4 separate regions of the Homo sapiens genome follow, and regions 2, 3 and 4 are each linked to region 1. Evidence: fine-mapped expression QTL. A gene starts in region 1. Each other region holds a variant in brackets. All regions are shown on one strand. Distances are between the middles of the regions.

Region 1 (8,106 bases):
TTGTGCAGAAGGATGCCCACTTTTGGTATTTCTATTCAACATAGTACTGGAAGTCCTAGCCAGAGAAATTAGGCAAGAAAAAGAAATAAAAGCAACCCAGATTGGAAAGTAAGAAGTATCTCTGTTTGCAGATGCTATTTATTTATTTAGAGACAGGGTCTCACTCTCATTGCCCAGGCTGGAGCGCAGTGGTGTGATTGTTATAGGACAGGGGTCCCAATCCAGACCCCAAGAGAGGGTTCTTGGATCTCACGCAAGAAAGAATTCAGGGTGAGTCCTTGGTGCAAAGCGAAAACAAGTTTATTAAGAAAGTAAAGGAGGGGCCGGGCACGGTGGCTCACGCCTGTAATCCCAGCACTTTGGCAGGCCGAGGTGGACAGATCATGAAGTCAAGAGATCGAGACCATCCTGGCTAACAGGGTGAAACCCCGTCTCTACTAAAAATACAAAAAAAAAAAAAATTAGCTGAGCATGGTGGCAGGCTCCTGTAGTCCCAGCTACTTGGGAGGCTGAGGCAGGAGAATGGCGTGAACCCGGGAGGTGGAGCTTGCAGTGAGCCGAGATCGCACCACTGCACTCCAGCCTGGGCAACAGAGCGAGACTCCACCTCAAAAAAAGAAAAAGAAAGTAAAGGAATAGAAGAATGGCTACTCCATAGACAGAGCAGCCCCAAGGACTGCTGGTTGCATATTTTCATGGCCATTTCTTGATGAAATGCTAAACAAGGGGTGGATTATTCGTGCCTTCCCTTTTTAGACCGTATAGGGTAACTTCCTGATGTTGCCATGGCATTTGTAAACTGTCCTGGCACTGGTGGGAGTGAGGATGACCAGAGGTCACTCTTGTCACCATTTTGGTTTTGGTGGGTTTTGGCTGGCTCCTTTACTGCAACCTGGTTTTTGTTGTTGTTGTTTGTTGGTTTGTTTGTTTTTTGAGACTGAGTCTTGCACTGTCACCCAGGCTGGAGTGCAGTGGTGAGATCTCGGCTCACTGTAACCTCCGCCTCCCGGGTTCAAGCAATTCTCCTGCCTCAGCCTCCCAAGTAGCTGGGATTACAGGCACCTGCCACCATGCCCAGCTAATTTTTTGTATTTTTAGTAGAGACGGGGTTTCACTATATTGACCAGGCTGGTCGCAAACTCCTGACCTCACAATCCGCCCACCTTGGCCTCCCAAAGTGCTGGGATTACAGGCGTGGGCCACCTTGCCCAACACTGCAAACTGTGTTATCAGCAAGGTCTTTATGACTTGTATTTTGTGCTGACCTCCTATCTCATCCTGTGATTTAGAATGCCCTAACCGTCTGGGAATGCAGCCCAGTAGGTTTCAGCCTCATTTTACCCAGATCCTGTTTACGACGGACTTGCTCTGATTCACACACCTCTGACACAATCATAGCTCACTGCAACCTTGACTTCCCGGGCTCAGGTGATTCCCTCACCTCGGCCTCCTGAGTAACTGGGACTACGGGCACCATACCACCATGTCTGGCTAATTTTTTGTAGTTTTAGTAGTGATGGGGTTTTGCCACGTTGTCCAGACTGGTCTCAAACTCCTGGGCTCAATCTATCCACCCACTTCCACCTCCCAAAGTGCTGGGATTACAGGTATGAGCCATGGCACCTGGCTAATAAGCTCTTATCTGCAGAAAACCCTAAATATTCCACACACAAAAAATGTTAGAGCTAATAAATGAATTCAGCAAAGCAGCAGGATACAAAGCCAATGCACAAAAATCAGTTAAATTTCTATGCATTAACAATACGCAATCAAAAAAGAAGATAAAACTTCCACTTACAATAACATCAAAAAGGCCAGGTGTGTTGGCTCATGCCTGTAATCCCAGCTCTTTGGAAGTCTGAGGATGAGAGGATCACTTGAGCCCAGGAGTTGAAGCTGTAGTGAACTATAATCGTACCACTACACTCTAGCCTGGGCAAGAGTAAGATCCTGTCTCAAAACAAAAAACAAACAAACAACAACAACAAAACCATGCAAATGGACAGCAATAAATAAATACATTAATTTAATTAAATAAAACAATAAAAACCCCCCCAAAAACAGTAACATCAAAAGGTGCTCAAGTTGTTACCAATTAAACTGAAAGTTCCAGCTGGGCTTGGTAGCTCACACATGTAATCCCAGTGTTTTGGGAGACCAAGGCAGGAGGATCCCCTGAGGCCAGCAGTTCAAGACCAGCCCAGTTAATATAGCGAGGCCCTGTCTCTAAATAAAAAAATTAAAAAGAAAAAAAAAAAAACACCTGGAAGGTCCCTTCACCCCAACTCCACTTCCACCCCCAACTTGGCGGCACATCTTTCCTTTCGCTCTTCCAGTCCATATTTCATAGTTGCCTTTCAAGTCCCACATTAGAAATAGCAGACAGCCCAAATCCCATGGTGTTTCTTTGCATCGTCTCCCTATACCCCGTGTTTAAATGTCACAGCGCCTCACACACAGTGCTTTGACAGGCCATTTGCCATCTGTTGGTCTCACCGGATTGTAATCTCCGCATGGCCATGGCTGGATTTTATAAAACGTTGCTGTCCTGGTGCTTGGCAAAGCGCAGGCAGGGAGGAGGCATTCAGAGCCTGTTCACAGAGGGCAGCGGGCAGCGTGGAGAGTGGTAGGCTGCCTGGGTAAACCAGGTCTGCCTTTCTCAGGCTGGTTCATACCTAAAGGACATTTAAGGGGCCTAGCTGGCCATCCAAACTCTGGTCGTATGAACTGAAGCCTCCTCAAGGGAGATACACAAAAAAATACACAAAACAACACGGCCTAGTGGGAAAGGACCTGGACTTGCATGAAAAGGTGCGGGGCAGCCTTTCCCAGCCTCAATTTTCCTCTTCTTACAGAGGCGGAGGCTCATAGAATGAGGTGCATGACATCCCAACCTAGGAGAAGAAACTTCTGCAGAATGAATCAGGAGCCAGGTCTGCGCTCCCGAGGCCAGAGGTGGCCTCCTGTCGCAGCTCTGTGCACGGTACGGCCACTCTGTGCCCTGCGTTTCGCCTCCAGGCCGGGCGGGAGCAGTGCCTAGCCCAGGTGTCCTCGACGCGAGCAGCTGGGCGCCGCTGCGGAGGGAGGGAAGCGCCGCGCCGGTCCCGGGCCCAGCGCTGCGCCCAGTCCTGAGGCGCCCTCCTGCGGCCGCTGCTCGGCGACCTCCCGGCCCTGCGGCCCCGCCCCCGCGGTGACGTCACCGCATTCCGGCTCCGCTCCTCCCGCCGCGGCGCCCGCACCGCAGTGACAGCCAGCCGGGCCCGGTGGCGGAGAGGAAGTGCGGTCCGCGCCAAGCCCGTCCCCGCCGACGCCGGCTCCCCCGCGGCTCGGGTGACAGCGTCGCGGCCGCCGGACGCAGCGCGGGGCAGGCGCGGGCAGAGCCGAGCGCAGCGGAGGCTCCGGCGGAGGCGCGGGGAAAATGGCTGATGACTTTGGCTTCTTCTCGTCGTCGGAGAGCGGTGCCCCGGAGGCGGCGGAGGAGGACCCGGCGGCCGCCTTCCTGGCCCAGCAGGAGAGCGAGATTGCAGGCATAGAGAACGACGAGGGCTTCGGGGCACCTGCCGGCAGCCATGCGGCCCCCGCGCAGCCGGGCCCCACGAGTGGGGGTGAGTCAGCGCGGGGCCTGGAGAGGGGCTCAGGGCGCGCACCCGGGGGACCCCGGCCGGGGCCCAGGGGCACAGGGAAGAGAGCCTGCTCTAGGCCACCCGGGGCAGGAGCTGGGAGACGTGGGGAAGAATCTTCTTGGAGATCTCCATGTAGGACTTCCGAGCTGGGGATGAGGCCTCGCCTGGGGCTGTGGATCTGGTGACTCCCGGGACAGGAATTCGGTCATGACATTTCATCCCCAGGCCAGCTTCCCCACTGCCCGGCTCTGGAATCCAACCCCACCTCAGTTTTGAGAGTCCCTCCTGAGCCTCCTAATAGCCTGGGTGTCCCAGGCTCCCAGCTAAGTGTGCAGGTGTGGGCAGAACACAGCCCTCCTGGCCCCTCAGGCTTAGCTCTCTCCTGCAGCTGGGAAAAAAGAGGATCCTGGGTGCTCCAGGAACTCACTAACCTTCCCCGGTGACCGCCTGGCATTCGGCAGTCGCTGGGCTAAGCGCCTTGGTTACATTTAATCACTTCATACACGTGATTGAACCCATTTCAGAGATGGTAAAACTGAGGCTCAAGGGAGTATGCTATTGAAATAACTAGTAAGTGGCAGATCAAGAATTTAAACCTGTTTCTTTTTCTTTTACATATATATTTTTTCTTTTCCTTTTTTTGAGATGGGGTCTCGCTATGTTGCCCAGACTGGTCTTGAGCTCCTGGGCTCAAGCAATCCTCCCACCTCTGCCTCCTAAAGTGTTGGGATTACAGGTGTGAGTCACCACACCTGGCCGTGAATTTAAACCTGTTCCTGTCGGACTTGAAGCCCTCTCCACCTGACCACACTGCCTACCAAGTGTCTGGCTCTGAGTTAGACACCGGAGTGTGGGCCACAAAGAGGCATCAGTCAGATGCGGTAGGGCCCTTCAGGGTTTTGTAGTTGTCGACTTAATGGTTTTCCAAAGGTGGTCCGGGGCTATTATGATTTACTGTGATTGGCTTCAGACCTCAGTGTTCAGGGCCTAGTCCCTGTGAAATCATCTTTATCAATGATGTTTCTGCCCTGGTTCTGGCTAGCAAGAATGATTTTGTAAAATATTTAGTAAAAAAGTAGATATCACCTTCATGGGTACATCCAAAACAGGTTTTACTTCCTGTTGATGTCATTTTGGAAAGGTTTATGGGCCTGTTGTAGTAAGTGCTAACATATATACATATAGACATATTTTGGTTAATGATGTTTACAAGGCTCTTCACAGTCATGTTTGTATCCATTCAACGTTTACTGAGCACCTACTGTGTGTCAGGACGCTGGGGATACAGAAATGAATAAGACAGTTCCTGTGGCTGAGGAGTTTGAAGCAACTCTGTATCTCCTTGATATGAGAAATGTAACCAGGCTTTTGTAACATGCAAGAAACCGGTGGCCCAGAGAATCTGAGTATCTTGCCCAGAGTCACACAGCCAGGAATGACCAATCTAGGACTTGATCCCACGCCTCCCAACTCTGGGCTCCATGCTCTTTCAAATGCTGTGGAGCCTGGGCAACATGGTGAAACCCCATCTCTACAAAACATACAAAAATTAGCCAGGCATGGTGGCATGTAGCTGTAGTTGTAGTTCCAGCTGCTCGGGAAGGCTGAGGCAGGAGCATAGCTTGAGCCCGGGAGGTGTAGGTAGGTCGCCGTGTGCTGTGATCACGTCTCTGTACTCCAGCCTGGGCAGCAGAGTGAGACCCTGTCTCAAAAAAAAAAAAAAAAAGATTCTATAGCAGTCACCTCCCTGGCAGGAGATAGGATGTGGGGTGAGAAGCATGGGGTCTTTTGCCACCTATCTGAGACAGCAATGGAGGGCTTCTGAAGTGGAAGCTTCCAGCACCTCAATACAGAATCTGCCGTGTCCCAGGGAATTCCTAAGAAATGCCTGCCCCAGTTAATGCACCAGTATTCACTGGACCACACCTCTGTGAGACCACCCTTTTCCTCAGTCTGGCTCACTGGGGCCTGTTGGGGTCGGGGTGCAGGGAAGAGGAGGGAGGCCTTGTGGGGAGGTCCTGCTGAGGGGAGCCATTGTGAGAACCTCAGGAGAGAAAAGATGGGATTCAGGCTGAGGGCAGCCAGATGCCTGAGGGAGCTGAGCAGGTTGTGGCCTCTCCCAGGATGGTGGGGCTCCAGGGACTTACAGTCTGGATGGCAAGTTCTGTCCTTGGCAGGGGTGGGGCACAAATTGGCCTCAGACCAGAGGTGACAGGGAGAGAAACAATGACACGCTCGCTTCTTCCAGGGAGGTGCCGGGGATACAGCCTTCTGAGGGTCTCCCAGGCGCATACCTGCTGACTCTGCAAAGGCTCAGCTGCCCTCCTTAGTTGGATCGGGGAGCAGGGAGGTGTTGAGGGATGGCGGCTCAGTGGATGGCCAGATGGGCTAGAATTGATCTGACCTTCTCAGCCTATGCAGTGCTGAACAGGTAATCTTCCCCTGACCAGGGATGTGTGCCAGGAGCCTGGATGGGGCAGAGAAAAAGCGCCCTGGCCTGCTGAGAGCTGGGCAAAAGCTGGCTTAGCAGCGGCCGCCAGTCAGTACCTCTGAGGCACCTTCTCTTAGATGTTGGGGTCCTCAGATTAGCAATCTCTGTGCTGACACTGGGCTCAGTTGCCCCTGGGGAAAGAGGTATCTGGTGTAGGCCTGTGCTGGAGCCACAGGGAGCCCCTCCTCTCTGGCTGGATCTGTGGCCCTGGGTGATCTGGATGATGGACACTTTGTTTCCATTCATCAGCCTTGGGTAGGTTTCCATTTTCACACCCAGTTTTCTGAGCACCAGGCCTGGCTCTGACTTGCCTGTCAGTTCTGGGCAAGCCCATTTCCCCCGCTGGGCCTCGTAAGCTCACAGGAATGTTCTGGACCCTCTCTGCCCTTGTTCCAAAATGGGTCAGGCAGCTGAGGGAAGCAAACCCTCAGGGGTTTATCCCTGGGACGTGTCTCTGTCTCAGTCCTGTTCTGCTGGCCTGTGAGTGTGGACTCCCGGTGGTAGATGGGCAGTGGGTGGGTGGAGAGCACTGTGGGAACAGGTACTTGGAATGCTGTGTAGGTGTGTGTGGACTCTTAAGGAGGCCGAAACTGCATGTCCAGAGGAACACTCTCGAGGCTGAGGCAGAGAGACTTTCTGAAGGTCAGGGTAGACCCCAGGCAGCTGTGTGTAGATGTGGGGTCTGAGACTGGGGTTGGTCAGGGCGGAGTAGGGTGGTGCAAATTCTCGAGAAGGCCAAATGTACAGACCGGCATCACAGGGAATAGACCCTGGTAACGTGAGGCCCTGCTAGAGGAGACACCCCAGCAGAAGAAGCCCCTTTGCAGAAGATGCTGCCACTGAAATGCTATTGGTCCCACTGTGATTTAGGGGCCAGGACACCCATGCAGGAGAAGCCTTATCTGAAGGAATGGGAGTGACAGCTGACAGAGTTGGTTGGAATCAATCACTGGTTGACTCTGAAAGCAAAGTCAATTATGATTTATGTCACCCGGGGATTATTTCCATGGGATTAAGTACCCTTCCCTTGAGTCCCCAGGCCAAACACACTGTCGCTGCTCACAGCCCTGTCTGGCTGGTGAAGGGCTATTTGTCCATCTGCCTATTAACCTCATGTGGCCTCCATGGCTTTTTGCTAGGAGGCACAGCAGTTTCTGAGAGCCTTGCAGATAACAGCAGGCCTCAAAACAACAATTCAACTTCCATTTAGCCAATAGTTACTGCTCACCCATTCCGTGCTGGAGCCCTGAGGAGCTGAATAGGACACGGAGCCTGGTAAGGGGGTACACACGGACCCTGGGGGTCATGAGTAATTGCACAAGAGGGTGCAGGATACTGTATGATATCCTGGGATACCCCGGAAGTGAGACCTTCCGTAAGTGCCTAGGGAAGTAAAGGAAGCAGAGGAGGGCTTCCCAGAGGAGGTGACTTATGAGCTGGACCTTGGAGAATAAATGGAGCCAAAAAAGCATTCTTTTTTTTTTTTTTTTTTTGAGATGAGTCTCACTCTGTCGCCCAGGCTGGAGTGCAGTGGCGGGATCTCGGCTCACTGCAAGCTCCGCCTCCCGGGTTCACACCATTCTCCTGCCTCAGCCTCCCGAGTGGCTGGGACTACAGGCGCCTGCCACCACGCCTGGCTAATTTTTTGTATTTTTAGTAGAGACGGGGTTTCACCGTGTTAGCCAGGATGGTCTCGATCTCCTGACTTCGTGATCTGCCCACCTCAGCCTCCCAAAGTGCTGGGATTACAGGCATAAGCCACCACGCCCGGCCCAAAAAAGCATTCTTTAGAGAGGGAAGCAGGAAGAAAGCATGGGGATGAGGGTGGTGTGTTTGGAGAAGGAGGAAACCAGAATTTAGGGTTTGTGGGATGGGCTGGTGGGAAGTGAGTCAGGAATGGGCAGGGCCAGATTGTAGAGATCCTCATGTTCCAGGGTTAGATGTACTTATCTGGCAAATATTTATTGAGTCCTTGTTATGTTCCAGGGACTG
Region 2 (8,106 bases), 350 kb after region 1:
TTGTCTATGCATCCCAGGATTTCCAGAACAAAAATAAAAAATAAAAGATATTCACTGAATCTGTTATTATGATATATTTAAGCAGGACACAGTGGTAACCCTAAAAATTGGAGATCATTAAAGACCAAAGTAACAGCATGTGGGCATGATTTCTCAAATCGCAGTATAGAAAATACATAAAACAAATAGATTCAATTGCAAGCTTAGGCAAGAAAATATTGATAAAATGATTGAATATCTTATTTCATAACTCTAAACAGGGATTTAGCACGACATGAAAACTAGATTCACATAATCAAAATAAAAGACCATTTTTATTCTAATTTTAACTCAGAAATTATTATGCTTATTCAATTTAACACTTTCACTGAAAGGTTAAAGAGATAAGAAGGACAGATTATAATTGCTTAATATTGCTATGGTAACTTCCATTCAAATACCTGTGAGTCACCAGAAGTCAAAAAGGTAGCCAGCATTGCAACACAGGATGGATCATGCAACAGAAACTAGCACCAGGTTACCTTATCTTATAATATTATTTGCTGTTAAAATGAAATTTTAAAACAGCACCAAAAGTTAAGTTGGGGCTAAAACTGTTGTGCAGGAAAGATTTCATATAGCAGGAGAGAGACTGCCGTCCTCAGAAAGACCCGCATGCAAGCCTGGCCCTTGGCTGTTGTTTAGGAAATTGGAATTGGGAGGGTTCCCACCATGCCCTAAGACTGGTCACTGTGTCTAAAGTGTTTATAGAAACAATGCGGTTACTTCTGAGCAGCTGCTTTCCTTCTGAAGGTCGGAATGTGGGTACATGTGAGGGAGAGTAACCTCCATAAAAAACACTTGGGTACTGAGTCTCTAATGAGATTCTGGTACTGGTAGACATCACTGCACATGGGTTGTCAAAATGTGAGGCTGGGGGAATTAAGCAGATCCTGGGAACTCCACAGGAGAGAACTTCTGGAAGCTTGTGCCTGGTTTCCTCCAGACTTGACCACCACATGCACCTTTTCCCTCTCATTTTGCTTGTACCCTTTCATTGTAATCAATTAAAGATCTGAATATGATTATTTGCTGAATCCTGTGAGTCCTTCTAGTGAATCACCAAACCTGGGGGTGGTCTTGGGAACCCTTGTCACAAATGCATTATATAAGGTTTTTATTAAGTTGACATGACCTATAATCAGATGGTTATTTCACAGAATAACTTTCCCTAATCTGTTTTTCTTTTCTTTCCTTGATATTTGACTTGGAGGTTCTTGTATTTCTATACTCAACTGATTAAAGCCATAAAAGAAATAAGTGAAGCAATTGTTAGAAAATAATGGGAAATAAGCAGCAATCCTAGTTTTACCAGAATAAAAAATAGGGAATCTTGATGATTGACAATATGTTCTACAATATGAATGTTTCTAGAAACAAAAAATGAAAAGGTGGTCAATTTTCTGCAACTCAACTGGGCTTAATTCCTTTTTATAATAATTGTGCAGGCCAGGTGTGGTGGCTCACATCCGTAAAATCCTAGCATTTTGGGAGGCCGAAGCAGGAGGATCACTTGAGCCCAGAAGTTCCAGACTTCCAGACCAGCCTGGGCAATATAGTGAGGAAAAAAAAACCTTAAAAGGAAAATTAGCCAAGCGTGGTGGGGCATGCCTGTAGTCCCAGCTACTCGGGAGGCTGAGGTGAAAGAATCATTTAAGGCCAGAAAGCAGAAGTTGCAGGGAGCCAAGATAGATCCCACCACTGCACTCCAGTACTGGCAACAGAGGGGGACCTGTCTCAAAAAATAATAATAATAAAAATGAATAAATAAATAAACAAATGATTGTGTATCCAGCTAGATGTAACTACACATAGCTACAATCCCAGCTACTCAGGAGGATGAGGTGGGACGACTGCTTGAGCCCAGAAGTTCCAGGCTACAGTGAGCTATGACTGTACCACTGAATAGACACAATATTCTAGCCTGGGCAACATAGAGAGAGCCCATCTCTTATAATAATGATAATAAATTAATTGTGCATCATTCAAGTAACTTGTATAACTGGAAAAAAACATAACCATTGAATATAGTATAATAGTATAACTACTGATCATAGAGTTCCTTTTACTTGCCCCTAATCTTTTCATTTCTCATAAGACTAAAACATGGTTGACCCATTCAAGGCAGTTCATCACAGAACAAGTCAAAAAGCCAAAAGAATTGCATCCAAGCTGTAGGCTGTGTTATCCACTACTCCCTGCAAGCAGTGGATTTGGTCATTAACAATCAGCAGGACTTTTAACTTTGTGTGCATGTGTGTGTGTGCGCACCCGAACGCACATGTGTGTATGTGCACGTGTGTGTGTAAACTATGACAGATAAAACCATTTTGCTTATGTAAGAATATGTAACATAACTTGTGCTTCTCACAAAGGAATTGCTTTTCTGTTTTCTGCACTCAGTAGGTATCTTCAAACAATAATCTCCTATTCGTATGGGTGCACACTGGTTCACTTTTACAGTTCTTACTGCCATTTATTTATTCTACGAGAAAGGGATTGTTGAGTTCCCGGTTCTAAAGATACTTCCTTAGTGACACAAATTAACAGGTAATACAGTTCACCCTTGAACAGCAAGGGTTTGAACTGCAGGAGTTCATTTATATGCAGATTTTCTTCTGCCTCTGCAACCCAGAGACAGCAAGACCAACCTCTCTTCCTTCTCAGCCTGAACAACCTGAAGATGATAAAGATGAAGACCTTTGTGAGGATCCATTTACGCTTTATGAAAAGTCAATATATTTTTCCTGCAGATTTTCTTTCTAACAGCTTCACTTGTCTAGCTTACTTTATTGTAAGAACACAGTATATAATAATGCAGCACAAATAAAATAGGTATTAATCGACCGTTTATGTTATCAGGAAGGCTTCCAGTCAATAGTGGGCTATTAGTAGCTAAATTGGGAAAATCAAAAGTTATACTTAGATTTTCAGCTGCACTGGAATCAGAGCCCCTAACCCCCACATTATTCATGGGTCAAGTGTAATTATGTATTTACTAAATATAAACAATTTATTATAAAAATAAACAACTTATTACAAAAATGAACTAGAAGATCCATATGTATAACAAGTCCAATTTGTTACAATGTGACTATAGAGAAAACATAAATATTATATAGGATTTTC[A/G]GGATCATAATTAAGTAAATGATTTTTTTTTTCAGATAATACTGTTTGAGATTATAAATCAGCTACAACTACCTTCTTAAATAACTCTTAATTCCAAACTAAAGAAGTTAAATATAAGAAACTAATTTACATGTATGTATATATGTATATATACATGCAATTTACACATCTTTTTAAACTTTTCTTTTCCTTCAAAACTACCTTAATCTTACATCTTAATTTTTTTAAACCAAGAGTAGGACCACCATGAGAAATGAGAAATTCACTATCAGAAGTCTTACCTGGATTGTAAGTTTTAAGAATCTTCTTTTTAAGTTCCAAAATTTGGTGTCGAATTCTGTATATAAAAAAGTAATAAATAAAATTGCTATTTTAATACTGAAATAAAAGTTACCATATTAAATTCTTAATGTTTGGTAAATGTATAATCAAACTGATTCTTTTTTCCTCGCTGGCTAAAACAAAATACATCTTCGCACATCAACGTACTTCTATATCTATTGTCACCTTTGATGGTCACATATTATTGCATCCTATGGATGCAACTGAAATTTACTTATAAGATCCATTCTATGGGTTCTTTTTAAAATAAGTGCTGTGAAAAACAAAGTGCATGTATCTCTATTTCCCAAGGGTATTTTAGTATAATGGAATTGAAGGGTAACGGGCATACGCATTTTTAAAATATAGTACTTACCACCAAATTATCTATTTAAAAAGTAATCAGCAACTTAAACTTCAGGCAGCAGTATAAAAAACATCCTCACACATTGTGGATAGAAAACAGTTTCATTCCTCTTTTAATTTAAATTCTTATACCAGAAAAGCAAAGGCTTTTTTTCCTATTTACATAAGAAACTTGTAGATCTGCAAAAAAGTACTTTGCCCCCTTTTACAGTTTTTGATTATTTGATTTGAAAGAATTCCCTGTAAAATGAAGATGCACTTTTCAGGCCGGGCGCGGTGGCTCACACCTGTAATCCCAGCACTTCTGGATGGCGGCTCACTGCAAGCTCCCCCTCCCGGGTTCACAGCATTCTCCTGCCTCAGCCTCCGGAGTAGCTGGGACTATGGGCGCCCACCACCACGCCCGGCTATTTTTTTTTTTTTTTTTTGTATTTTTAGTACAGACAGGGTTTCACCGTGTTTGCCAGGATGGTCTCAATCTCAATCTCCTGACCTCGTGATCCGCCCACCTCGGCCTCCCAAAGTGCGGGGATTACAGGCGTGAGCCACCGCGCCCAGCCCTAAAATTTTTACAAATGTCATTACAATAGTAAAAGACAGTAGGTGTCATGCAAAAATGTTAAAACCTTGATTTTTTCATTCGGCTTATGTAAAATTGATAATCACAGAAAGAGCTCACATTTTGAGAAAAATGTGTCTTCCCATTCAGGAACACAGAACCCACCTCCCACTTCCAAGTTTCCTTCTAAGAACCTTCAGTAAAGAACCGATCTACACAGGTGGATACGGATGTAAAACGGACAGTTTTAGGTGAGAGCTTTTCGCTACTGAAAATGACTCACGGTTTTTTGTTTGTTTGTTTGTTTTTCTTTTTGGAGATGGAGTCTCACTCTGTTGCCAAGGCTGGAGTGCAGTGGCACCATCTCGGCTCACTGCAAGCTGCGCCTCCCGGGTTCACGCCATTCTCCTGCCTCAGCCTCCCGAGTAGCTGGGACTACAGGCGCCCGCCACCACGCCCGGCTAATCTTTTTTTTTTTTTTTTGTATTTTTAGTAGAGACGGGGTTTCACCGTGTTAGCCAGGATGGTCTCGATCTCTTGACCTGGTGATCCGCCCGCCTCGGCCTCCCAAAGTGCTAGGATTACAGGCCTGAGCCACCGCGCCCGGCCGACTCACGGTATTTTTTGATAGAGGAATGAGTTCTCTCATTAGGCACCTCCTATAATGTGTATAACACCATGTTTTAAACGTGTAGGTTAAAAATAACACTGTGTATGCTTAGCTTGGTGAGTTAAATCACTCACATTCTCCACCAAGCGCTCCAGCTGGGGAATTATGGGGGATGCAGAGCAGCTGAGGCTCCGTTTGGCACCACCCCTCTGAGGGTGCCCTCCGAGGCCCCATCCCAGGGGCTGCGGGGAAGCCGGGCCTGGGGACCCCCTCCCACCCTGGGCTGAGCCCCCACCCCACTGCCTGTGCTGCCTGTCCCCGGCTTCCAGGTCTCTGCTCCTGCGCTCCAGGCAGCGCTCCACTTCCGCGGCTTCGCCCTTGACAGCGCCCTGTGGATCTTCCGATTCGGTACCCCGAACCCCTGTAGACGTGGCCTAGGGAGCCCCGGACCGCCGGCCCCTGCGGCTCCCAAAGCCGAAGAACTTCTTCAAGGTGGTGAGTTCTTCTCAGACCCCCAACCACTGGCTCCTGAGCCGCGGCAGCTCCGTGTCACCTTTTCACTCCCCCTCGCCCCACACCCAGCCCCAAATCCCCAATCCAACTCCAAATCCCCTATCCAACCCCCAATCCGCGATCCAACCTCCAATCCGCGATCCAAACCCCAATCCGCGATCCAACCCCCAATCCGCGATCCAACCCCCAATCCGCGATCCAACTCCCAATCCGCGATCCAACCCCCAATCCGCGATCCAACCCCCAATCCGCGATCCAACCCCCAATCCGCGATCCAACCCCCAATCCGTGATCCAACTCAAAATCCCCGATCCAAATCCCAATCCGCGATACCAAGTCTGCGATCTAGCCCAGAATCCGCGATCCCGCCTGGTCCACCCTTCAGCAGCGACACTGGCGGCCTCCGACCTCTCAGACCTAGTGAGCCTCGCAAAGCCGCCCGGCTCCCGGAAGCCGCAGGTGCAGGCGCCGCTGGGCTCGCGGGTTCTCCTGGCTGGCCCGGGCTGCCCCAGGACCACGGACGGAAAATCGCAGGCGCGCGGCCCACCCCGCCTTAAGGGGAGGGCCCGCCTGGCCGTGTAGCCCGCCCCGCTCCTCCTTCCGAAGAGAGATCTGGTGCTGGCATGGGCACCCCGCGGCCACCGGAGTGGCTTCCCGGATGAGCCTGGCTTCGGCGCTGACGCTCTGGCCCTGGGGGCTGCCTGGCTGGTGTCAGGTAGCGGAAGACGCCTGGAGAGTCACTCGCTCCTTCCCCCACCCGCCCCCACCGCTGCTCGTGCCAGGACGCGCAGTTTGCAGTTGCAGCTCAGGCACTGGCGCGGGATGGCGGAGCTTCCCTTGGATGGCGTCAGGGTCACCGAGTGCACAGCCTACCTGGTCTGAGGGTCTGCTCCTCCTGGACACCTCTCCGGATCCTGATCCCTGGCGCTGGGCAATCCACAGGATGAGACTCATCGGCTGCTGGCGAAGCCGACCGCCTGACTTTGCTGCCTGGGCGGCTGGCCCCGGGATCCGCGCTGCTGGGGACGCGGGCCTGGTCTGCGGTGTCCAGCCACTTGCTGCGGGCGCGCCACGTCTAGGCTGGTGGCTGCAGCCGCAGCTCCGCGCCTGCGGGGGCTAGTGGGCCTGGTACCTGATGTCCTCAGGGTCAAGTGCATCGCTCACCCACCTGAGGGTCTGCTCTGCCTTGACCTCCTCCAAGAGCGCAGGGGCCACCGGGGAGGCAATTTAGGAATGCCTAAATGGAAGGAACTATCCTTTCTCTGTCTTTAAGAAATAAGTGGCTTTTGTTGTTGTTTTTGTGATACCCAGCTACAGCAGAAAGCAAAGGGGATGCAGAGGTGAAGGTCCACAGCCAGTTCCTCTACTGATTCCCTCCAGGCATAAATGTTCAATCTAACGGCTTTGGTTGGCACTTTCACCTCAGCACTTACCTATGCCTACAGGTTTGTTCAATGGCAACTCTTGGATTTTGAATTAATACCCAATTATTTCATATTTTAATACCCAAACTATTTTAATAGTTTACCATATCTGCAATCCTGAATTAATTTTTTCTTTGTTTATAAAACAATCACTATAGTAAGATAAAAATCACAAAACACTTCCACATTTCATTGGGCTAAAAAAGCATTAAAACATTATACGTAAAAGATAAAAAATACATTGTTTCATCATAAAAATTATGGCTTTGCAAAATTTTTTTACCTTTAGCTACATTCTTACGATTCTTTAACTTTTCACTGTTATTTTATACATTTTTAAAACAATGCATACCAGTGTTTAAAAAACAAATGCAGCACTTCATCTAGGACTGAACATATAACGCTGGTCAGCTCTTTCAGCATGGTGCAGGTGTGGGCCTCAGGCTGCTTTCTGTTTACATGTATCAAATGACATGACCATCTTAACTGCACAGATACCATCTTCTCGGCTTCTTTCTTCTCCCCCAAAACTATTTAATGTTGCTTTAATGGCAACATCAATTTAACTAGTTTTGTAATTTCTGTATTTAATTGTCACATAACATTATATCCGTTCTTTTTTTTTTTTTAAAAAAAGGAAAGCATACAATCTTAGTTGCTAGGCCAGTTCTTCTGAATCAATTTGAAATCACCTTTTTTCTCTTTCATAATAACTACTTATTTTAATCAACAAGTCAACTATTATTAGATATTAACTTATTTTTTCTAGTTAAAATTTTGCTATCTTTCAAATAATTCCAACTCTTACACACACATTTAATGTACATAACTGTAACATATACATACATAAGCACAGGTTAAGCCAGATCTAACATGAATTTAGATATGCCAAGAAAGCCACATGACCATTATTTACATAAATATGACCAGTGTTCACATTTATCAAGGCCAATGAATATTAAGGTGATTGCTTCAATAAGAAATTAGGTGAAGAATTATTTGTTGAATATTGTCAAACACTTTTTTAACCTGTTAAAGTTATTTAAGCCCGACCCAAATAATTTTTAAACTTTTTATTCTATCATGCCTATAGACAGCTTCATATATTAACCATTTCTGCTTTCGTGGTCCTTTGAGAATGGTAT
Region 3 (8,106 bases), 29 kb before region 1:
TCAGAGACCCGAAATGACGCCAACTCCGCGGTGGGGACTAAGCTTCTCCGGCAGATATAGACTCGTTGGGCGGAGAGGGTCCGACCGATAACCGGGCTGGGAAGGATGGCTGAGGACTGACGCCGCTAAGGCAAACCAGGGAAGCTGACACGCTGAGGGCACAGAGGCACAGACGAGGCGGGTCTGCCCGCAGCGATGGCTGGAAGGCTAGGGTCCAACAGAGGCTTGGGGGCCGGGGGAATCAGGGCAGTTGGAGTCTGGGGGGGAGGGGGCCGGCCTGCTGGTCTGAGAAGGATCTGAACCCAATCTGAGGAGGGTTCTGAACTCCTCTAGGGGCCTACTCCCCATCCCACGGAGGCATCTGCTGCACCGAGTACTCGCTGCTACCTGAAACTGCAGCAGCTTCTCTGTCTGCTCCTGGGTTAGATCCCGCTCCTCAGGCGCCGCCATTTTGCCGCCGCCTCTACGCTCCTGACCCGTCCGCACCGTCACCCGCCGGAACTGACCTCAGCCACAACCACATCCGGTCTGAACGGCCGCCGGCGCGCAACTGCGTCTGCGCGCGCTGGCCCACTAACCTCCCCCCGCCCCCCGCCACCTCTGGCCGCCGCCAGAGGGCGCCACGCTCGGGCCTATCCCGAACACTTCCGGAAATTGCCGAGGGACTGTCGGTACAAGTCGCTCTTACCATTTAGGCGACGAAAGGATCTGCTAAGATTAGGCGACGAAAGGAGACCTAAGATTCCAGTGCAGTCTTGCAGAGCCGAGAGGGCCCGAATGTGCCTCGAGAAGCTCCGGAGCATCCCGAATGGCATTCGGCTGATTTCGGCTGCTCTCTAACCATTTTCCGGCAACCTCAGATACTCTTGGAGGTTTCTCGGGAGACGCAGCCGTTCCGAAATACCAGCCTTTTGGTCGCTGGCCCCTGACCTAAAGTTTCCAAAAGCTCCTGACCATCTCTCGGGAGGTTCCGAAGGGCTCTGGATACTGGCGCGGCATTTCCGACGCCGCCTTCGAAGCGGAAGCTGTGGGCAGACTTCGGCCACCGTTCCATTGCCGCTTCGGGGTCACTTGCAGGAAGATCTGGACTCGGCTCCCCGGATCCTCGACCATTCATGGCGCCCCCAGTCGTCCGCACAGCTTGCCGTCCACCGCCGTGACTGCGGCGCTGGAACCCCGGCCCGGCATCTGCTTTTCCGTGCCTGGAGCCTTGTCTCTCCGCACTAGCGCTGCACTGGCCCCTTGTCTCTGTGACAGGCGAAGAAAGATCCCTGGACCGGGATTAGGAGACGCGGGTTCTAGTTGCCACCTTGCCAACTGCTGGACATCCTTGGGCAAACCACTTGGGCTCCATTTTGCCATTTGTTGAATGAGATTCCCCAAAAGCCCCTGACGTGCTGCCGCCGCCCCTTCTCCTCGAGGCAGTCCCCTGCCCTTCCCTTCTGCTGCTTACACTACCCTATCACCACCCCTCAATCTCTATCTTCCTCTGCACGTCCCTTGCCCCTTCTAGTCCGCCACCTCTCTTTAGATTTCCCGTTTTCATTTCCACCTCTCCCGCCGAACGCCTCCTCTGCCCACCTTCCAGAGAGGCCTGGGTCTGGTACACGCTTTTCCACTGACCACCTGTGTGATTCTCAGCAAGGCTCTCGGCCGCCTGCGCCCCACCCTCGTCCCCTTGCAGGGTTGATCCGGTGAGACAGAAAAGGCTTTGAGAGCTGGTTCTGTGAAGAGTACATGAAATTTTGGCTACTTCTTTCAGGACTTATCAGGTCTTACCAGGTCTGCACAAACCACGACGTCCTGGAAAAACAGCACATGGTACGCCCTAAAACACAACCCCCAAAAAGTGCTAATTGGAAAAACAAAACAAAACAAAACAAAAACCCTGCAAATTTGGATCTGCATATGAAATCTTTCCGTTTAAAAATGGTGTCGGCCGGGCTCTGTGGCTCACGCCTGTAATCCCAGCGCTTTGGGTGGCCGAGGCGGGCGGATCACTTGAGGTCAGGAGTTCGAAACTGGCCTGGCCAACATGGCGAAACCCTGTCTCTACTAAAAATACAAAAATTAGCCAGGGTTGGTGGCGCACGCCTGTAGTCCTAGCTACTCGGGAGGCTGAGGCAGGAGAATCGCTTGAATCTGGGAGGCGGAGGTTGCAGTGAACTGAGATTGCCCCACTGTACTCCAGCCTGGGCGACGGAGTGAGACTCCGTCTCAAAAATAAATAAATAAATAAATAATATGTCAATTAAGTAAAAACCCCCGAAGGTAAAATCGGAAGCAGATAGCTGCTACTCTATAGAGAATTTATTACAGCAGCTCAAAGCTCAAAGGAAACTCAGTGTTGTTCAATCTCACCAATAACGTTGGGTTCAGATAAACTAAATGAGGGTTGGCAAAGTCAGATGTCCTCAGGAATTGTGTAATTCTCACTTAAGATATATACTTGCCAGCAGGCATGGTGGCAAATGCCTGTAGTCCCAGCTACTCGGGAGGCTGAGGTGAGAGGACCACTTGAGGCCATGAGTTCAAGGCTGTTGTATGCTGTGATCACACCACTGCATTCCAGCCTGGGTAACATATTCTTTCAACAGACCTAATTTGTAGTTATATGAAACACCATTGAATATTTCTTCACTTCCTCAAAGAAAGTTACACTTTCTTTTTCTATCTTTCTGTTTTCTTCTTTCTTTCTTTCTTTTCTTTGAGACGGAGTCTTGCTCTATCGCCCAGGCTGTAGTGCAGTGGCCTGATCTTGGCTCACTGCAAGCTCTGCCTCCTGGGTTCATGCCATTCTCCTGCCTCAGCCTCCTGAGTAGCTGAGGCTTACAGGTGCCTGCCACCATGCCCGGCTAATTTTTTTTTTGTATTTTTAGTAGAGATGGGGTATCACCGTCTTAGCCAGGATGGTCTACGATCTCCTGACCTCGGGATCCGCCCGCCTCGGCCTCCCAAAGTGCTGGGATTACAGACGTGAGCCATCGCACCTGGCCCTGTTTTCTTCTTTCAATAAAGATTAGGTTACAAGAAATAATTCATTTGTTTAAAACTCTACTTTAATGTGTCTCCGTGTGGGGACAAAATATGAAAAGCCGGAGTGTCCATTCCCTGTCCAAAGGTGGTTTTTGGCCAGACGCGGTGGTTCATGCCTGTAATCCCAGCATTCTGGGAGGCCAAGGTGGGAGGATTGTTTGAGCCTAGGAGTTGGGGACCAGCCTAGGCAATATAGTGAGACTGCCTCTACCAATTTTTTTTTTTTTTTTTAATTAGCCAAGTGTGGGCCGGGCACGGTGGCTCACACCTGTAATCCTAGCACTTTGGGAGGCTGAGGCGGGCAGATCTTGAGGTCAGGAGATCAAGACCATTCTGGCTAACACAGTGAAACCCTGTCCCTACTAAAAATAAAAAAAAATTAGCCAGGCATGGTGGCAGATGCCTGTAGTCCCAGGCCGAGGCAGGAGAATCGCTTGAACCTGGGAAGCAGAGGTTGCGGTGAGCCGAGATCGTGCCACTGCACTCCAGCCTGGGCAACAGAGCGAGACTCTGTCTCAAAAAAAAAAAAAAAGTTAGCTGAGTGTGTTAGTACGCATCTGCAGTTCTACCTAGTTAGGATGCTGAGGCAGGGATGATCACTTAAACCCGGGAGGCAGAGGTTGCAGTGAGCCATAGTCATGACTGCACTCCAGCCTGGGTAACAGAGCAAGACCCTGTCTCAAAAAAACAAACAAAAACAAAACAAAACAAAAAACAGACGGTTTCTGCCTTTTAGCTGTGGAGGATGGCTTCCATGTATTGCCGGAACTGCCCATTTTTTTTTCAGAGCACAGACATTCTCACCCCCCCAAAAAAATGTGAGGTGATGCATATGTTCATCAGCTTGATTTAGCCATTCCACAAAGTACACATATTTCAAAACATCATGTCCTACATGATACATTTTATTTGAAAAACATCACATTGTACACCTTAAAAAGTAAAATATGCTAATTTGAAAAGAAAAACTCTACACATTTGGATTTCCATGTGAAATCCCCCCATTTAAAAATGGTGTTGGCCAGGCGCGGTGGCTCATGCCTGTCATCTCAGCCCTTTGGAAGGCCGAGGTGGGTGGATCATCTGAGGTCAGGAGTTCAAGACCAGCCTGGACAACATGGTAAAACCCCGTCTCTATGAAAAATAGAAAAATTAGCCAGGGATGGTGGCCCGCACCTGTAATCCCAGCTACTTGGGAGGCTGAGGCAGGAGAATCACTTGAACCTGGGAGGCGGCGGTTGCAGTGAGTCGAGATCACGCCATTGCACTCCAGCTTGGAAGATAAGAGTGAAACTCCGTCACAAAAAGAAAAAAAGAAAAAGGTGTGAACTAATTCAATTCAAAAAAAGGTGTCAATTTCAAGAAAATTACTCTGCAAGTCAACCAGAATTGGAAGAAGCCTCATAGCCTCTGTTTGCCATGGAAGAAGCAGACCTGGGAAGAAACTCAAACTTTTTTTTGATAAGTTCAAGATGAAGAGTGTGAAAAGTGTTACCAGTTATTGGCTTGCCTTTTCTTTTTTTTATTTATATTTATATTTTATTTTATTTTATTTTATTTTTTGAGACGGAGTCTTGCTCTTGTAGCCCAGGCTGGAGTGCTGTGGTGCAATCTTGGCTCACTGCAAGCTCCGCTTCCTGGGTTCACACCATTCTCCTGCCTCAGCCTCCCAAGTAACTGGGACTACAGGCGCCCGCCACCACACCCGGCTAATTTTTTTGTATTTTTAGTAGAGACGGGGTTTCACCATATTAGCCAGGATGGTCTCCATCTCCTGACCTCGTTATCTGCCTGCCTCAGCCTCCCAAAGTGCTTGGGATTA[C/T]GGGCGTGACCCACCACACCCAGCCTACTTTTTTTTTTTTTTTTTGAGACAGATTCTTGCTCTGTCACCCAGGCTGGAGTGCAGTGGCACTATCTCGGCCCACTGCAACCTCTGCCACCTAGGTTAAAGCGATTCTCCTACCTCAGCCTCCCAAGTAGCTGGGATTAAAGGCACATGCCAACAAGCCCGGCTAATTTTTGTATTTTTAAGTAGAGATGGGCTTCTCCAGGTTGGCCAGGCTGCTCTTAAACTCCTGACCTCAGGTGATCCACCCGCCTTGGCCTCCCAAAGTGCTGGTGTTATAGGCGTGAGCCACTGTGCCTGGCCTTCTTTTCTTTTTTTTTTTTTCCTCTTTTATTTTCTTTTCTCTTTTCTTTTCTTTTTTTTTTTTTGAGACAGGGCCTCCCTCTGTTGCTCAGGCCAGAGTATAGTGGCATGATCATGGCTCACCGCAGCCTCGACCTCCAGGGTGCAAGCGATCCTCTCACCTCAGCCTCCCAAGTAGCTGAGACTACAGGCACACACCACCACACCAGGCTAATTCTTTGATTTTATTATTTTATTTTATTTTACTTTATGTTCCAGGATACATGTGCAGAACGTGCAGGTTTGTTACATAGGTATATATGTGCCATGGTGGTTTGCTGCACCTATCAACCCATCCTCTAGGTTTAAGCCCCGCATGCATTAGGTATTTGTCCTAATGCTGTCCCTCCCCTTTCCCCCTACCTCCAGACAAGCCCCGTGTGTGTTTTTCCCCTCCCTGTGTTTACATGTTCTCATTGTTTAACTCCCACTTACGAGTAAGAACATGTGGTGTTTGGTTTTCTGTTCCTCTGTTAGTTTGCTGAGGATGATGGCTTCCAGCTTCATCCATGTCCCTGCAAAGGACATGATCTCATCCTTTTTTATAGCTGCATAGTATTCCATAGTGTATATGTTCCACATTTTCTTTATTCAATCATTGATGGGCATCCACGTCTTTGCTATTATAAATAGTGCTGCAATGAACATACGTGTGCATATGTCTTTATAGCAGAATGATTTATATTCCTTTGGGTATACACCCAGTAATGGGATTGCTCACAGCAGGCTAATTCTTGTACTTTTTGTAGAGATGGGGTTTCACCATGTTGCCCAGGCTGGTCTCACACTCCAGAACTCAAGCGATCTTTGTGCCTCAGCCTTTGAAGTAGCTTGGTCTAACAGGTCTGCACCACCAAACCCAGTTTATATTTTAATCCAAAGTGGATTTAAAAATTCCACCCAGGGTAAGAGGATTGCTTAAGCCCAGAAGACCAGCCTTGGCAACACAGTGAGACCTCTGTGTCTATAAAAAATAATAAGCAAAGTAAATCAGAGGCTGAGCTTGCAGTGAGCCAAGATCGCGCCACTGCACTCCAGCCTGGGCAACAGAGCGAGACTCTAAAAAAAAAAAAATCTGTTTGTAAAAAATTGCGTGATTTGTGAACTGTGAACAAGTTTAAATAACACCTGAGCTGGCAGAATGGGAAAGGGAGGAAAAGCAACAGACCTACTTACAGATGGTTTAAATAACCCATTTGCATTTAAATTGTCCCTACAATCTTAGCCTCTGCCTGGTTGGGAGGGCATGTTTCCCAGGAGACAGTGTAGTTTCCATTGAACTGCTTGCTGCGATGACCACCTGGACACTTTGGACACCTCATGCCGTAAACCTGCGAGTGGAGGAGTTGTCAGACCAGCAGGGTAATCCCCCTGTTTACAATGAGGGGCCAGGGTTGCTGTTATACACCACAGAGTCAGGAGTGTGTCTGGAGCTCAGGGGACTTACTGGGACATCTTTTGTCACTTCCACACCCAGTGATAACGGAAAACAAGCAATTGCCACAACCACAGCCTGACAAGGGAAGGTAATTAAAGGCTGAGACCCTTCCAAAATAAAAGTCTGGATTGCCCAGGCTGGAAAAGCATCAGGCCAACCAAAGTACTAGCCAAGGGTGAGGGAAATGCCGAATGAGTAATGGAGGAAGGAGATGACGATTATCACTTACAGCCTTGGGACCAGTTGCAGCTGCAGAGAGCTTAGTTTGTTTCACCAGCTAGCTCACCTTAAGTCTTTGTAGATTGTTGCTGGCTACTAAATGAAAAGGGATTTTTATGAATGTTTGGACTCCTACCGTCCCTCTTGGAAGGAATGAGGGCATTTTGTTCCTACAGTCGTGGAGAACTGTAGGACTGGATATAACGGGAGGGAGTGAGCAGTGCAAGGGAGGGACTGCATCCAACATCTCTTACATTTCACCTGAGATCTTTGCAGTCTTACCTATCTCCAAGGCCCTTGGTCACTTGTTGCACCCCCAGCCACTTCTGTGCTGATCAGTTCTACTTGGATGGATTCTGTCTGGCCACCTCCGTGGTGACCAGCTTGCACAGACCCAGTGCAACAGCATGTCACTTGCATGTGCACTACAGGCTTTGACTCCCGCCCTGGAGCTTTTCTATTGCTACTGGAGCAGGAGACACCATGGACCAGCGCAGCGCCTACCCACATGTGACCCAGAAGTGCAGGGGAAGTAATGGCCCGTGGGGCAAATTTTTGGCCATTAAGAGATGGGAGTGTGAACCCTGAAAGAGCCAGTCCTTCAAGATGGATCCTGAGTGGCTAAGTGGGCCTGAATTCAAAATACAGCCAAGCGGCCATTCACTGACTCTAGGTCACCCACGTATCCTGCATTCCCAGGAACCCACATGCTCATGTAATGTTGGGACTTTCATAGCTGTCTGTTCTTGTTCATCCTGCCAGAAATAACGACTGTTGGAAAATCCCATTTCGCCTCCTGAACTACTATTGTTTGAATATGGTTTGTTTGGCTCCGCCAAGTCTCATGTTGAAGTTTGATCCCCTATGTTGGAGGTGGGGCCATGTGGGAGGTGCTTGGGTGATAGGGGTGGATCCCTCATTAATAACTTGATGCTGTTCTTGTGGGAGGGAGGCAGGTCTCACTCTTAGCTCTCAAGATAACTGATTGTTGAAAAGAGCATGGCACCTCCTCCCCTCTCTCTTGCCTCTTCTCTCTCCATGTTATCTGCACAAGCCTGTTCCCCTTCACCTTTTGTCATAAGTGGAAACTTCCTGAGGCCCTCATCAGAGGCAGATGCTGGTGCCATGCTTCTTGTACAGCCTGCAGAACCGTGAGCCTAATAACCCTCTGTTCTTTATAAATTATGCAGTCTTGGGCATTCCTTTAGAGCAACACAAACAGACC
Region 4 (8,106 bases), 290 kb after region 1:
AGAGTTATTCGAGCAACAGACAGAGACAGACAATAATAGCTGGGGACTCCAACACCCACTTTCAGCAACAGACACACCCTCTAGGCAGAAAAGTAACAGACCAGACTGACTCCAAGAGAAGTCAAAGGGACCTCACAGGTAATTACAGAACATTTCACCCACCAACTGCAGAACGTGCATTCTTCTCATCAGCTCACAGAACATTCTCCAGGATAGACCACATTTTAGGCCACAAAACAAATCTCAAAAGAGCATTTAAAAAGTGAAAATCATAGCAAGTATCTCAGACCAAAGAGAAACATTGGAAACTCTCCAGGTACATGGTATATAAATAATGGTAATGGTCAGTGAAAAAATCAAAAGGACAAAAACATTTCTTGGAAAAAAAAGGAAACGAGAGAAAAAATGCATATAGTAGGTGTTTTTGAAGTAAAAAATGCAGAACAATAAAATTCAAAGATACAATGAAAGAAACATTTTCTGAACTAAAAATTGATTTGAATATGTTTTCTTTCATTGGTAACAAAATGACTGGCAGGGAAAGGTGACGTCCCTGATTAGATAACTTTTTTTTTTGGGACGGAGTCTTACTCTGCCACCCAAGCAATTCTCCTACCTCAGCCTCCCGAGTAGCTGGGATTACAGTCATGCGCCACCACGCCCAGCTAATTTGCTGTATTTTTAGTAGAGATGGGGTTTCACCATGTTGGCCAGGCCGGTCTCAAACTCCTGACCTCAGGTGATCCACCCACCTTGGACTCCCAAAGTGCTGGGATTATAGGTCTGAGCCACCATCACACCCAGCCGATTAGATAGGCTTTTAAAGCCGCAGCGGAAGGGGCAGCAATGTCTGTAACCGGTGGCCAAACAGTATTAAACTCCTGGGTTGTTTTGGGAGGAGTCACTACAACTACAGCCCAACTACATTTATTATGCCAGATAACACAGTGCTGGGGGGACATACTGGAGTTGACAAGATCCCCTGGGGGCACAAGTGGCAATGGCTGTGCACCAGTGGCTGGATATTCCTGAAAAATGAAATAAACATAAACTGTGGTCACCGAAGAAGATGTAGAATTAATGTACCAAAAAGCATTGATGAACATGGTCCAGGTCAACAGGAAAGCTGCAGGAATCATGTACACGTTCAATGCCCACGCAGCCATTGACATCACTGGTTTCAGGGTTTGGGAACAGGTACAGAATATGACCAGGCAGCAGAGGTGCTCTCTTTTTAAAAGTGCTTTCATGGGCAGGCATGGTGGCTCATGCCTGTAATCCCAGCACTATGGGAGGCCGAGGCAGGCAGATCACCGGAGGTTGTGAGTTCAAGACCAGCCTGACCAACATGGAGAAACTCTGTCTCTACTAAAAATACAGAAAAGTAGCCAGGCATGGTGGCACATGCCTGTAATCCCAGCTACTCGGGAGGCTGAAGTAGGAGAATTGCTTGAACCCGGGAGGCGGAGGTTGCGGTGAGCAGAGATCATGCCATTGCACTCCAGCCTGGGCAACAAGAGCGAAACTCAGTCTCAAAATAAAAAATAAAATAAAAGTGCTTTCACATATGTCAGGCATTACCAATAGTAGTGTCAAATAGCAGTTGGTGTCTTTTCATTTTATGTATGTTTATCATATGTCTGATCTTTTTTTAGTGTCTTGAATGGTTTTCTGGAAAGACAGTATTGGCAAGTGGCACAGGATGGTATCCCAATTGTAAGAGGGTTGCATGATTCCTTTGTCTTTGATTTGAAAAGCCTAGTCTTGGACCCGGCTCAGTGGCTCACGCCTGTAATCCTAGCACTTTGGGAAGCCCAGGGAGGTGGATCACGAGGTCAAGAGATCGAGACCATCCTGGCCAACATGGTGAAACCCCGTCTCTACTAAAAACACAAAATTTAGCCGGGAGTGGTGGTGGGTGCCTGTAGTCCCAGCGACTCGGGAGGCTGGGGCAGGAGAATCACTTGAACCCAGGGGGCAGAGGTTGCAGTGAGCCGAGATTGCACCACTGCACCCCAGCCTGGTGAGAGAGTGAGACTCCGTCTCAAAAAAAAAAAAAAAAAAAGAAAAAGAAAGAAAAGCCTAGTTTTGTCACTCAAGAGCATCTCACACCCAGGACATTTTCTAGTACTGCATTCTGTTCAACACAGTAACTGCTTCACTGCGTAAAAAACACTTTGAAGACAAAAAGGAATCTTTTTTTTTGTAGTCTTCCTGATATTTACAGTAATACTATTAACTATTTATTGACAGCAAAGACGAGATTATTTGCAAAGTGATGTAATTAGGATTTTTTTTTTTTTCCGAGATGAAGTCTCACTCTGTTGCCAGGGCTGGAGTGCAATGGCGCGATCTCGGCTCACGGCAACCTCCACCTTCCAGGTTCAAGCGATTCTCCTGCCTCAGCCTCCCGAATAGCTGGGATTACAGGCGTCCGCCACTACACCCAGCTAATTTTTTGTATTTTTAGAAGAGATGGGGTTTCACCATGTTTGCCAGGCTAGTCTCAAACTCCTGACCTCGTGATTCACCCGCCTCGGCCTCCCAAAGTGCTGGGATTACAGGCGTCAGCCACTGCGCCCGGCTGGTTTTTTTTTTTGTTTTTTTTTTTTTGACCAAGTTTTGCTCTTGTTGCTCGGGCCAGAGTGCGGTGGCACAATCTCAGCTCACTGCCACCTCTGCCTCCCGGGTTCAAGCGATTCTCCTGCCTCAGCCTCGCTAAGGAGCTGGGACTGCAGGCACCTGCCACCATGCCCGGCTAATTTTTATAGTGACAGGTTTTCGCCATGTTCGGCAGGCTGGTCTCCAACTCCTGACCTCAGTTGATCTGCCTATCTTGGCCTCCCAAAGTGCTGGAATTACAGGCATGAGCCACCGCGCCCAGCTGAAATTAGATGTTTTTTAGTGTAACAAGGAATTGCCTTCCAAAATGAAGTTCATGTATTATGCTCATTTGCAATATATAATTAACTGTGCAAAATGATTTTTAAATATAGTCAATAACAAAGATTGTTCTGTATATGGTAGTGTTTAATACCTTTTTTTTTTTTCCCTGAGACGGAGTCTCACCTGTAGCCCAGGCTGGAGTGCAATAGCATGATCTCGGCTCACTGCAACCTCCTCCTCCTGGGTTCGAGAAATTATTCTGCCTCAGCCTCCCAGGTAGCTGGGACTACAGGCATGTGTCACCACACCCAGCTAATTTTTTATTTTTAGTAGAGATGGAGTTTCACCATGTTGGCCAGGCTGGTCTTGAACTCCTGACCTCAGGTGATTCTCCTGTCTTGGCCTCCCAAAGTTCTGGAATTACAGGAATGAGCCACTGCATCCGGCCAATACATTTTTTAAAATCTTGTATATTGATTTCAGGCCTGTTTTCTTAACAGTAGCAGCTATTTCGCTTAATTCTGAGCAGTGTTTTGTTCTCTGGGCCAGTAGGATTTTATGCATGCTTTTTGTGATCCGTGTTCAAAATCTGGATTGCCAACATTGCAGCTCCAATGTAAGCTTGTTATTCAAATAAATATTTAATTTTTAAACTTGCTCCTGTATGGCTGGGTGCAATGGCTCATGCCTGTAATCCCAGCATTTTGGGAGGCTGAGGTGGGTGGATCACCTGAGGTCAGGAGTT[C/T]GAGACCAGCCTGGTCAACATGGTGAAACCTTGTCTCTATAGGTTCAAGCGATTCTCCTGCCTCAGCCTCCCATGTAGCTGGGATTACAGGTGCCAGCCACCACACCTGGCTAACTTTTTGTATTTTCAGTAAAGACGGGGTTTCACCATGTTGGCCAGGCAAACTCCTGACCTCAGGTGATCCACCCTCCTCGGCCTCCCAAAGTGCTGAAATTACAGGTGTGAGCCGCTGCTCCCAGCTGGGATACACATATTTAAAGTTGTTACCAAACTTCAAGGATCAAAGAAAGATTCCTAAGGAGGGTACATCTGAGAAAAGAAAAAGTTCTGTTCAAATAAATATTTTTCCGAGAGTTTTCCATAGCAATGTTTAATGCTAGAAAAAATGGAATAATATGACACATATGTGTGTATACTGTACATATAACTAAAGACATATAAAATGGTCTGAAATTACAATGCACAAAGCCAATAGCATTAGTTACTTCTGAAAAATGTACTGGAATTGAAAAGAAGACATTGGTCTTGTGTAAAATTTTAATTTTTTAAACAGAATATGAAACAATATTAATAATAACCACCACAACAATAAGAACAATGCTGAAGCAACCTCTTCCAAGTTATCAGGACAAGACCATGTGATCCAAACAGGTATGTTCAAGTTGTTTTTTAAGTAGAAGGAAGCAAACCTCATTTTCAAATATACAAGGAGAGACCCATCTCATGAAATAATTTCGATAAGCAAGAAATGACTGGAGAAGCCATGACTTTTAAAAAATTGATAGTAAGCAACCAATCCATTATAAAATTGTTAGACGATTATAAAAATGATTATAGAATTACATGCTGTAATTCCTCAAGGAAGAATATGGTGGGTGAGTTCTTATATATGTAACATTGATAAATGTGAATGATGTCTTACAATTTAAATTATGCCAAAAGAAGTAATGTGTTTTTGATGGTGTTATCAGATTAGATTCTTCCAGAAAGGTTGAAGGATCTTTCGGAAAGATTCGAACATTAAACAAACCAGAGAATAAGGTAATAGATAGCCATTGTAGGTTCCTGGATGGTATGGCAGATTATATTACTCTCAAGAAGCATTTGTTCCCTCCCCACCCCCAACGCTGCCTGCATGTACTACCCCATTTCATTAATGTTGGACTTCACCAGGTGACTTTCTTTGCTCAGTGTAGCATTAGCAGACTTGGTTCTGCCATTACTGTTACAAGAATAATGGAAAGCTGACCATTCTTCTTCTTTAGTTCCAAAAGTAAAAATAAAATGAGTGTTAAGAGACAGAATACAAGCCACAGACTAGGAGAAAATATTTGCAAAACACATGTCTGATAAAGGGCTTATATCTAAACTAGACAGAAAATTCTTAACAATTAAAAAACAATTTAAAAGTGAGAAAAAGATCTGAAGAGACATCTGAACAAAGAAAATACACAAGAGACAAATCAGCAAATAAAAAGATTCTCAGCCAGTTGCGGTGGCTCGTACCTTTAATCCCAGAACTTTGGGAGGCCAAGGTGGGCAGATCACCTGAGGTCAGGAGTTTGAGACCAGCCTGGTCAACATGGTGAAACCCTGTCTCCACTAAAAATATAAAAATTTGCTGGGAGTGGTGGCATGCACCTGTAATTGCAGCTACTTGGGAGGCTGAGGCAGGAGAACTGCTTGAACCCAGGAGGCGGAGGTTGCAGTGAGCAGTGATCACACCATTGCACTCCAGCCCAGGCAACAGAGTGAGACTCCACCTCAAAAGAAAAAATAAGGCAATTTTACAGTAAATACGAAATCTCATTTCTGAGGGCCCCCCCCACCTCCAGTTAGGTGATCCATTTGGTATGGTTGGGAGATGTGACACTCAAGGCTGGTATACCACGTGGTTACTGATTGAGAAATGTACATCACTGGGAAGAATGGATGGACTGCATGTTCTCTATGCAGCTATCAGTACACCTCTCTCTAAGCTGGCTTTTGAAAAATATGGCTGTGGGTTTGAGGTGATAACACTACCCCCTCTCCAGCAGCTCCTGTGTCGTGGTGCACGTATCAGGTGGTCTTTGTAGCCAGTGAAGATAGAATCCGGATTGGAATATATGTTAAACAAAGGCTGAATCAGGACATGTGCCAAGCTGAAGACTTTTCCAGTTCTGTACAACTGAGCCTCAACAGTGTGTTATGACAAAATTGTTCTCCAAACATTAATTTGTGGTCTGCTCCCATACACAAACAATACCAAATAATGGACTATGTGTCCATCTTGTCCATCTTTGACACTGTGTTCTACCAAGAGAGACACCTCCCAAAGCCAGAAAATGTTTATTAAACAAAATCAATGAAATGTCTGCGCACAGTCCAGGTGGCAGAGGTTTACTTCTTGAATAAATGACTTCATCTTTTAACACCATTTCACACTGAAGTCCAAATGGCCTCACAAATATTTCCTGGATCCTAACAAAGAAAATAATCTCAGTTGAAGATCCTGTATTCAATTATTTTGGCAACTATTTCTTACGTGTTTTCTTTTTCTTTCTTTTCTTTTTTTTTTTGAGAAGGAGTCTCGCTCTGTTGCCTAGGCTGGAGTGCAGTAGCACGATCTCAGCTCACTGCAAGCTCCGCCTCCTGGCTTCACGTCATTCTCCTGCCTCAGCCTCCCGAGTAGCTGGGACTAGAGGTGCCTGCCACCATGCCCAGCTAATTTTTTTTTTTTTTTGTATTTTTAGTAGAGATGGGGTTTCACCGTGTTAGCCAGGACGGTCTCGATCTCCTGACCTCCTGACCTCGTGATCCGCCCACCTCAGCCTCCCAAAGTGCTGGGATTACAGGCGTGAGCAACCGTGCTCGGTCATCTTACATATTTTCTTTGTCTAAATGACTGAGCTGGGTGCTGAGGAGATGATGTTGGCCAGGATGGTCTCTATCTCCTGACCTCATGATCTGCCCGCCTTGGTCTCCCAAAATGCTGAGATTACAGGCGTGAGCCACTTTGCCCAGCCAAGATTGAAATCTTGATGAAAAAAAGCAGTTTGGAAACTTACCTGTTTTTTATTCAAAGCCCGTCCTCTCCTTCTTGTTCATGAATGGCAGGCATCCTGTGGTGACTGAAGAAGGGCCTACCAGCGAAGGGACTCCATCGCCTGAGGAGCAGCTTCCGCAGGAGCTCCGGCAGGTTCCTTGGAAAACGTGGCAGTGCCGGGCCCATGGTGCCCTGTTCAGAAATACAAGACTCAGATTTAGTAAAGCCAGTTGTGTAATGTGAAATTCGTTTAAAAAATCCTTAACCAACACATTTCATTTCATAAGACCGATGTATTCTATCAACAGTCTTTTACTGTATGTTCATACTTAACGGCATTAAGAATCACCGTGATGGGCTGGTGACATGCATCTGGTTCATCAATGTTAGTGGCAAAGCTTCCAGCATCTACAACTCTAGTCACCAAAATCAAGAATGTCTTTCTCTTCTCTTTTTACCTAATTACAAAAAAGGGATTGATTTATGAAAAGCAATATATTAACAAATAGCACAACTTATGTTCATATCATTGCCACTTCTAGCCACAAATTAGGAGTCAGGATTAAGGAAAACTTACCTAAGTTTTCCCAGGCTATTTTAAAATTGCTTTTTTTCTACAAAAATAAATGTTAAATTCTTCTTTTGAGGTAGTCTCAATTAAGTTGCTGCTAATTGGAAAAGACTATTAGATCTTAAGCTGAACTGACAATTTTATAAAATAAATAGACTTCCTTTTCTACTATTAGAATGTTCTAATAATGAGTTCTATTATTATAGTAATACTTCTGAATTCCCTTTTAAAATATTGTTACTATCTTGGCATTTTTCAGACTTAACCTGAAAATGTTTTAAATATCAAAATAGACATATCCGAAGTTTACAACAAGGGTGTACAATCATGATGGGCACACTTCCTCAAACATGGGGGACCAACCCAACTCAGACCCATCACACCCTCAGCGTGTGGAAATGTTAAACTATACAGGAACCATGGCTGGAGACAAAAATCTGTAGGTGTCCCTGACATAAAATGCCATAGTACTTGCCTGCAGCCTGGACACACCCTCCAATATCCTTCAAATCATCTCTAGATTACCCACAATACCTAATACAATGGAAATGCAACGTAAATGGTTGTTATACTTTATTGCATAAAGAATGACAAGAAAAAAAGCTTGTACATATTCAGTACAGATGCAACCATCCTTTTTTTTCTGGAATATTTTTGATCTGAGGTTGGTAGAAAGCAAGGATGCAGGACCCACAGATAAAGAGGGCTGACTGTATTTAACACACACACACATTTTCTTTTGCCTGAGTAAAAAACAAAATTGTACTTGTAACACAGCTAAAGGATGTCAACAAAACTGTTCTTTCCAACCTCAAATTGATAGAGACGACCTTCAAAGTCCACATAGAACCTCTTATTGCCTTTTGTATTTTTAGT

Alleles and levels. Positions count from the first base shown, and alleles are read on the strand shown. Sizes are in standard deviations (SD) of each study's normalised expression. Not every link is listed here.
For the expression in whole blood of the gene that starts at base 3,243 in region 1, A is the low allele of the variant in region 2 and G is the other (small effect, 0.35 SD a copy in GTEx).

What was found.
Region 2: its variant is fine-mapped to the expression of CLTB in whole blood (GTEx, PIP above 0.99).
Region 3: its variant is fine-mapped to the expression of CLTB in esophagus mucosa (GTEx, PIP 0.95).
Region 4: its variant is fine-mapped to the expression of CLTB in whole blood (INTERVAL, PIP above 0.99).

The regions. Positions count from the first base shown.
Region 1 is chr5:176,411,676-176,419,781 of GRCh38, reverse strand. CLTB (clathrin light chain B) reads left to right here and starts at 3,243. Exons shown (of 6, transcript NM_007097.5): 1 at 3,243-3,605. The coding sequence starts at 3,419. It also overlaps a transcript of ARL10 not described here. RefSeq lists silencers at 2,951-3,410, 3,451-3,550, 3,661-3,740.
Region 2 is chr5:176,059,108-176,067,213 of GRCh38, reverse strand. It overlaps LOC100996385 (a long non-coding RNA gene), which reads left to right and starts at 5,159. Exons shown (of 3, transcript NR_103794.1): 1 at 5,159-5,519; 2 at 6,849-6,982. It also overlaps the pseudogene FAM153B. RefSeq lists an enhancer at 2,318-2,935. The variant A/G (reference allele first, on the strand shown) is at 3,169.
Region 3 is chr5:176,440,752-176,448,857 of GRCh38, reverse strand. FAF2 (Fas associated factor family member 2) reads right to left here and starts at 473. Exons shown (of 11, transcript NM_014613.3): 1 at 388-473. The coding sequence starts at 450. RefSeq lists enhancers at 393-452, 763-822, 903-1,092 and a silencer at 533-582. The variant C/T (reference allele first, on the strand shown) is at 4,859.
Region 4 is chr5:176,123,008-176,131,113 of GRCh38, reverse strand. LOC107986487 (a long non-coding RNA gene) reads left to right here. Exons shown (of 3, transcript XR_001743014.1): 3 at 4,185-4,273. It also overlaps the pseudogene FAM153B and the pseudogene SEPHS1P3. Among named protein-coding and RNA genes, the nearest start is that of SIMC1, 110 kb to the left of the region's middle. The variant C/T (reference allele first, on the strand shown) is at 3,632.